Regions from separate parts of the Homo sapiens genome. Here region 2 is reported to be linked to region 1. Evidence: microRNA targets listed by miRTarBase, many of them from high-throughput screens and not tested one by one. Region 1 holds a microRNA gene; the other region holds the end of a gene's coding sequence.
Evidence for each region. The annotated mature microRNA hsa-miR-6721-5p reads UGGGCAGGGGCUUAUUGUAGGAG and lies in region 1 at 1,359-1,381, shown strand. An mRNA with a match to its seed (bases 2 to 7 or 8) in the 3' UTR can be bound and repressed. Matches are read on the target gene's strand: a 7mer-m8 pairs with bases 2 to 8, a 7mer-A1 pairs with bases 2 to 7 and ends in A, and an 8mer does both.

Region 1 (4,152 bases):
GCTGCTGCTCTTCCTGCTGCTGCTCTTCCTGCTGCCCACCCTGTGGTTCTGCAGCCCCAGTGCCAAGTACTTCTTCAAGATGGCCTTCTACAATGGCTGGATCCTCTTCCTGGCTGTGCTCGCCATCCCTGTGTGTGCCGTGCGAGGACGCAACGTCGAGAACATGAAGTGAGGGGCAAGGGGTCTTGGGCAATGAGGGAACCTAAGGGTACAAAGTGAGTAGTGGATTGGGGGAAGGGGGCATGGTGTGTGTAGAAAAGACTGAGAGAGACCAGAGACAGGGAATGGGGAGAGGACTGCAAAGGTGGTCAGAAAGACAGTAAGGTGGGGGGAGCTGAGGCATGCAGATGGACATCAATGGATCCCACTGGGACCCCTTGCCATGACCCCACAGGATCTTGCGTCTAATGCTGCTCCACATCAAATACCTGTACGGGATCCGAGTGGAGGTGCGAGGGGCTCACCACTTCCCTCCCTCGCAGCCCTATGTTGTTGTCTCCAACCACCAGAGCTCTCTCGATCTGCTTGGTGAGACCCCACCACAGGGCACACCTCCCCCAGCCATGCCTCCCCTCCTGAAACCTTCCCTAGAATATCTTCTCCTAGAGATCCTCAATTCCCCTTCCTCTGGGACATTGCCCCCTTGCCTCCCACTCAGGCCTTCATTCCCTGGGTAGAACTGCCCTCATAAGCAGGTTACATATACTTTTGGTCACCCTTTCCTTCACTTGGGGCCCCCCTCCCTGCCTAGTCTCCTCCTTCACCTCCAGTCCCTACCAGAGGGTGATGAGCTGGGTGAGGTGGGTTGCCTTCTGTGACACTCTGCCTCCACCCCGATCCTCACCCACTCCCACCCTGCCCAAGGGATGATGGAGGTACTGCCAGGCCGCTGTGTGCCCATTGCCAAGCGCGAGCTACTGTGGGCTGGCTCTGCCGGGCTGGCCTGCTGGCTGGCAGGAGTCATCTTCATCGACCGGAAGCGCACGGGGGATGCCATCAGTGTCATGTCTGAGGTCGCCCAGACCCTGCTCACCCAGGACGTGAGTCATCCTGGGGAAATGGGGGATTGGAGGGATACAGAGTAGAACAGTTGTAAATAAACTGATATGCAGGGCCAGTGGGCCTCAAAGGTCCCATTATAACATCACACCTATTCTGACTCCTCCATATGTATTTGTCTTCTTTGACCCTCTTTCTCCCCCAGGTGAGGGTCTGGGTGTTTCCTGAGGGAACGAGAAACCACAATGGCTCCATGCTGCCCTTCAAACGTGGCGCCTTCCATCTTGCAGTGCAGGCCCAGGTGACTACTGCTCTTCGTTCTGCTACTCAGCTGCCAACCCCCACCATTCCCTCATCTCTGGGCAGGGGCTTATTGTAGGAGTCTCTGAAGAGAGCTGTGGACTGACCTGCTTTAACCCTTCCCCAGGTTCCCATTGTCCCCATAGTCATGTCCTCCTACCAAGACTTCTACTGCAAGAAGGAGCGTCGCTTCACCTCGGGTGAGGGCTTTGAGCAGTTCTGGGGTAGGGTGTGTCCGGAGAGGCTGGGAGGACATCCCTGTGAGGCAGGGGGATCATTCAGTGTCAGAGCCATGAGATGTCTACACAGTCATCTAGTCTAACCCCACATCAGCCAATAAGTCTTTACTAAGCACCCACCATACCCTGCCAGATGGGTAGCACTTGGTCCCACCAAGAGAGGCTGTTACTAATCTTAACAGGAAAGATAAGGCCTGTGTGCACAAAGCTGTAATGAATAACACTCATTCAGCAGTAAATGCCAAACCCAGAGGAGGGGGGCTGGAGGGGTGCTGAGGAGATGTCTGAACTGGGGATTGGAGAAGGCTTTGTATAGGAGAAGGGCCTCAGAAGTGGCAGCTGGCAAGCCCAGGGATGGTTGTCCAGGGTTGGGGGAAGAGAACTGAAAGGTTGAGGAAGAGTATCACTCGGAAGCTGGGCCCCACCTGTGGGCAAAGACCTGGGTGGACAGGCCATGATGGTGCTCCCCTTGCCCCAGGACAATGTCAGGTGCGGGTGCTGCCCCCAGTGCCCACGGAAGGGCTGACACCAGATGACGTCCCAGCTCTGGCTGACAGAGTCCGGCACTCCATGCTCACTGTTTTCCGGGAAATCTCCACTGATGGCCGGGGTGGTGGTGACTATCTGAAGAAGCCTGGGGGCGGTGGGTGAACCCTGGCTCTGAGCTCTCCTCCCATCTGTCCCCATCTTCCTCCCCACACCTACCCACCCAGTGGGCCCTGAAGCAGGGCCAAACCCTCTTCCTTGTCTCCCCTCTCCCCACTTATTCTCCTCTTTGGAATCTTCAACTTCTGAAGTGAATGTGGATACAGCGCCACTCCTGCCCCCTCTTGGCCCCATCCATGGACTCTTGCCTCGGTGCAGTCTCCACTCTTGACCCCCACCTCCTACTGTCTTGTCTGTGGGACAGTTGCCTCCCCCTCATCTCCAGTGACTCAGCCTACACAAGGGAGGGGAACATTCCATCCCCAGTGGAGTCTCTTCCTATGTGGTCTTCTCTACCCCTCTACCCCACATTGGCCAGTGGACTCATCCATTCTTTGGAACAAATCCCCCCCACTCCAAAGTCCATGGATTCAATGGACTCATCCATTTGTGAGGAGGACTTCTCGCCCTCTGGCTGGAAGCTGATACCTGAAGCACTCCCAGGCTCATCATGGGAGCTTTCCTCAGCACCTTCACCTTCCCTCCCAGTGTAGCCTCCTGTCAGTGGGGGCTGGACCCTTCTAATTCAGAGGTCTCATGCCTGCCCTTGCCCAGATGCCCAGGGTCGTGCACTCTCTGGGATACCAGTTCAGTCTCCACATTTCTGGTTTTCTGTCCCCATAGTACAGTTCTTCAGTGGACATGACCCCACCCAGCCCCCTGCAGCCCTGCTGCACCATCTCACCAGACACAAGGGGAAGAAGCAGACATCAGGTGCTGCACTCACTTCTGCCCCCTGGGGAGTTGGGGAAAGGAACGAACCCTGGCTGGAGGGGATAGGAGGGCTTTTAATTTATTTCTTTTTCTGTTGAGGCTTCCCCCTCTCTGAGCCAGTTTTCATTTCTTCCTGGTGGCATTAGCCACTCCCTGCCTCTCACTCCAGACCTGTTCCCACAACTGGGGAGGTAGGCTGGGAGCAAAAGGAGAGGGTGGGACCCAGTTTTGCGTGGTTGGTTTTTATTAATTATCTGGATAACAGCAAAAAAACTGAAAATAAAGAGAGAGAGAGATCTGGGTGTTGGTGGTTGCATTTGTTAAGGAATTGAAGAAGCAGTTCTTGCCCAGGCAACCTGCCCCCAGCCAGAAGACTCAGGGGCAGGCCAAGAACACAGGCCTCCCCCTTTCTTCAGCTCTCTGAAGTTTCCATTGTTCATTGCTCTTTGGTGGCTGATAGCCTTATCTGCAGCTCACAGTCGGCCAATCCCAGAGGATTAGTGGGTCCGGTTTCTGTATAAATTAGGGGGCAGGGGTGCTGTAGAGGCTTCTTATCGATGATTGACGCCGAGGCCCAGGCTGTTGTCCTCACAGGAGCCTGGTTAATGACATGGCAGACACAGTGGCTGTGGTCAGCCTGGAGTGGACTACACTGCCACTCTCACCAAACAATAAGTGAAACTGTTGGGCTGGGGACAGGATTTCAGAAGAGAACGATGGTAAAGTGGAGAGGCATGAGGATAGTGAATGTTGGAGAGGGGCTTGGAGGAAAGAGGGAATGCCTGAATGGAGAGGGGTCTTGGGGAAAGTTGGGGAATAGAAGTCAAGGCGGGAGGAGTGTGAGGACTCACAGGCACCTAGCCTCTCCTCCAGCAGCAGCACCTGGTCGCTGAGAGATTCGATCCGGTCACCCCGGCCCCACAGCTCAGCCACCTGTTCTGGCTGCAGCTCTTCAGGCGGCACGGGCAGCACCGCTCTGACCCAGGCCCCAGCCTGACCGGCCCACTAGAAAGGAAGAGATGCCTCAGGGTATTGACAGTGACGTCTGGCCTCGCCCCACCCAGCAGGCTTGGCTCACCTGCTCCAGCCGCTCCAGGCGCCCTCGCAGCTCGTGAATCTCCTGCTTCAGAGCGCGCTCATCTTTTTCCGCCTCCCGAACTAGGGACAAAGGAGACCAAGAGTGTGACCACTACCC
Region 2 (4,000 bases), not on the chromosome of region 1:
AAATTGGCCCCTAGTGTCAAAAATGTTGGGGACCACTGCTCAAGATGGTAATACAAAAGAAATTTGGAGATAATGCTGAGGCTGTTTGTCTCAGAAGAAGGCAAAGAAAATGCATTCCTTACTACACTGAGAAACTGGCTGTTGGGAAACATTTGGAAGATAGATGACTGTATGGGGAAAATTAGGTGTAGGGAGGCTAAGTTTGCCATCATAAGTGCCACACTTCCAGCATTCTACCTTCAGTATGTAAGCAGTTGGACAGGACTTTTGGTGGGGAAAAAGTTATGTTCCATTGTCGAAGAAGGGAGATAAGATCTCTCTTGAGCCTCTGCCTAGGAGCTTCTCTCTTTTTACTTTCTACCCTAAATACTTCTCTTTTTCCTTTATTTTTGCTTTTTGGTCTGTCTGTAACCTTTTTTCCCTGTCTATTAAATCTATCCCAGGAATCTAGTAGCTGCTGCAAGTCTTGCTTAGTCTTGGCATACTTGTATTTACAAAGATTGTCATTTTATTTTTTATTGTCTGGACTGTGATGTCCTTGTAGAATTACAGATGCTAACATTTATGTCTTCTCTTTATAGTCAATTGTTCTCTACTGGTTATGCTCCAGCTTCGTGGGCCTTTCACAGAATTTGCTGCTGCGTTCTCCTGGATTTCGCCAACTTTGCCGAATACCATCGACCAAGTCAGATTCAGAAACTCCTTATAAAGACATATTTGCTGCCTTTAATACCAAGTTCATTTCAAGAAAATGACATATTTTCCAATAATTTTGAAACAGTTGCAGGAGTCACTATCATCTAAATGTATTTAGACTTAGAAATTCAGATGTTACTTGATTTCCTTTTATTTAAAATCATTAACTTCATGAAATATTGTAGGTTAAGATGTAATCCAGACCAGGCACAGTGGCTCATGCCTGTAATCCCAGCACTTTGGGAGGTCGAGGTGGGTGGATCACCTGAGGTCTGGAGTTTGAGACCAGCCTGGCCAACATGGTGAAACCCTGTCTGTACTAAAATAACAAAAAAATTAGCTGGGCTTAGTGGCAGGTGCCTGTAATCCCAGCTACTTGGGAGGCTGAGGCAGGAGAATCGCTTGAACCTGGAATACAGAGGTTTCAGTGAGCTGAGATCACCCCATTGCACTCCAGCCTGGACAACAAGAGTGAAACGCTATCAAAGAAAAAAAAAAGATGTAATCCAGATATATTTGACAGTAATTAAAATCTTTTAAATGTTATAAATGCAGTATGTTTGTGAAAGTATTAGAATAGAACCAAAGTGCCTGTCTCTGTTTATAAAGTTACAGTTTGTTAGAGCTACCAGAACTTTGGAGAATAGGGTTAGCTACTGAATGATGGCAAGTTAAACTAAACAATACTGCATATTACTGTTTTGTAAAATAAGAGGATCAGTGAGATGATTCATGTTTTTTTTTTTTGAGATGGAGTCTCACTGTGTCACCCAGGCTGGAGTGCAGTGGCGCAATCTCAGCTCACTGCAACCTCCATCTCCCGGATTCCAGTGATTTTCCTGCCTCAGCCTCCAAGTATCTGGGATTGCAGGTGCACACCACCACGCCCAGCTAATTTTTGTATTTTTAGTAGAGATGGGGTTTCACCATGTTGGACAGGCTGGTCTGGAACTGCTGACCTCAACTAATCCACCCTCCTTGGCCTCCCATAGTGCTGGGATTACAGGCATGAGCCACCTCACCCAGCATTTTTTTTTTTTAATTTTTTTAATGAGACAGAGTCTCTCTCTGTCACCTAGGCTGGAGTGCAGTGGCACGATCTCGGCTCACTGCAACCTCTGCCTCCCGTGTTCAAGCAATTCTCCTACCTCAGCCTACTGGGTAGCTGGGACTACAGGGGTGCACCACCATGCCCAGCTAAGTTTTGTATTTTTAGTAGAGATGGGATTTCACCATGTTGGCTAGGCTGGTCTTGAACTCCTGGCCTCAAGTGATCTGCCCACCTTGGCCTCCCAAAGTGCTGGGATTACAGGCGTGAGCCACTGTGCCCAGCTGAGATGTTTCTTATTATTTTGGAGGTGGAGAGGATTTTAGACCTCTTTGAGCATCTGAAAAAAGGCTATATATGTATGGTTTTCTCTTCAGAAAAATCTTAAGACTCACAATACGGGGACTTCCTTGTTACCAGGAAGATTTTCTGGCAATTCCTAGTTAATAAATCTTATTCTAATGGAACATACATTGATCTTGAGTTAATGCGTGGTTGAAAAAAAAAGCGGGGGCAACTTGAAATATATGCAGTAAAGTAGTCCATGCATACAAGTCCCTAACATGGTAGATGATGTTGCCTCCCGGCCCTGCTCAGAAAGAATACAAAAAGTGTACATTCCTTTTTCTATAATTTAAGAAGTCTGGAATACAGAGTGTAACACTGTGTACTGCTAGCACCCAAAGTGGAAAATCTTAAGCATTCAGATTGTTTAGTCAAAGAAGAAAACCAGAAGGGCAGTTGCCTATTGAGGTGATTTTAAACCTGTTTATTTGTAAGGATTAAGTACCCTAATAGGCTTAAACTATGATAGAGGTTTAATACAGAAAAAATTGACAGGTATTATAAATTGTGGATCCAGTTACTTGCTTATTTAATTTGTAAAGAGGTAAAATTAGCTCTGGTTGAGATATCAAGTATGGCAGGTATTTGAGAAGGCTATAAATCATAATTTTCATTTAGTTAAAATATGGACCTGATTCTGGGAAACCCTATCATTCCATCTCAATGTTTTACAATAAAATAAAAACTAAAGTGAAATTCATTAGTCATTTCTTTGATTGATGTCTCTTAAATTTTAGTTCACCTGCTTAATGAAGTTATGACATTTTTTAATAGAAAAAATGTACAGCATACAGAGGTAAGAATTCTGCTTCCCTGAGAATTTATTTTAGACATAGATGGTGGCAATTAAGACTAGGTTCTTTTTTCATACAAGTTCCTAGTCCTGGTTTCTGACTGTCCTATTGGGGCAATTGTGCTTTCCAACCACATTGAAGGAATTGAAATATCCTCATTATTTGTGGATTTTATATTTGTAAATTTGCCTCCTTGCTCAAATCTATCCATAACCCCAGAACCAGTACTTGCACAAGTGCTTTTGAGCCATTTGTAGGCAAAAATGTGAGTCACCTCCCAACAGAAGTGAAACAAATGGTACTCTGCCTTCTAGTTTCAGCTCTCATACCGTAAACATGTATCCTTTTTGAGTCTACTTAGTCCCATCTCTTCCTAATTTCTGTTCTTTTTGTTGGTGATTTTACTGTTTAAAATGGCCTCCAAATGCCCTGCTGGAGTGCTTTCTGATGTTCCTAAGCTCAGGAAGGCTTAGGAGAAAATAAGTATATTAGATAAGCTTCATTCATGCACAAGTTATAATGCTGTTGGCAGAGAGTTCAGTGTTACTGAATCAACAATATGTTGCATTGTTCTGTTGACAAAAACAAAGCTTGCAGAAACCTAACCCTGTATGTTTTCTAGGAGCAGTGATTTGGTATTCACTACTTCAGTGTTTGTGGACTTTATGGAACATAAGTACCACAAATAATGCAAATTGACTATATTTGCAGCGTGTACAATCAAGGATGCAGAGGCAGAAATGTGTGTGCAGCTTAGGTCATAGTAAAAAGAGGAAAGAATTTGAGGAAAATTTTGCCAGTTACATATTACCTCTGGAATAACTTTGCCTTTGCCGTGTGTGTTACTGTGTACACTCAGATATTTTTCTCATAATGGCCTTTGCCGTGTGTGTTACTGAGTGAGTACACTCAGATATTTTTCTCATAATGGCATGAGGGAAATCAGTCTCCTTTTCCCATTGTGTTTGTCACTTTTGCTGAGACGCAAAAAATAACGTGCTATGATATTGTGAAATATGTATTTGGTCTTTATCCCCAATCCCTGACATCCAGCGGAATCTGCAGAGTTAAGTGTCTTTTGTATGCTCATGTGATGACTGGTGGCTGGGGGCCCCTA

Region 2: miRTarBase lists COX18 as a target of hsa-miR-6721-5p. Seed matches in the 3' UTR shown: 7mer-A1 at 1,972-1,978.

Annotation. Positions count from the first base shown.
Region 1 is chr6:32,167,313-32,171,464 of GRCh38, reverse strand. It overlaps MIR6721 (microRNA 6721), which reads left to right and starts at 1,349; the gene lies at 1,349-1,435. EGFL8 (EGF like domain multiple 8) reads right to left here. Exons shown (of 9, transcript NM_030652.4): 7 at 4,036-4,115; 8 at 3,809-3,962; 9 at 3,184-3,555. The coding sequence ends at 3,509. It overlaps AGPAT1 (1-acylglycerol-3-phosphate O-acyltransferase 1), which reads left to right. Exons shown (of 7, transcript NM_006411.4): 2 at 1-168; 3 at 395-528; 4 at 865-1,040; 5 at 1,205-1,300; 6 at 1,427-1,499; 7 at 2,017-3,253. The coding sequence ends at 2,189. It overlaps PPT2-EGFL8 (PPT2-EGFL8 readthrough (NMD candidate)), which reads right to left. Exons shown (of 16, transcript NR_037861.1): 14 at 4,036-4,115; 15 at 3,809-3,962; 16 at 3,180-3,555. RefSeq lists enhancers at 967-2,166, 3,675-4,152.
Region 2 is chr4:73,054,869-73,058,868 of GRCh38, reverse strand. COX18 (cytochrome c oxidase assembly factor COX18) reads left to right here. Exons shown (of 6, transcript NM_001297732.2): 6 at 582-4,000. The coding sequence ends at 755. Among named protein-coding and RNA genes, the nearest start is that of COX18, 13 kb to the left of the region's middle.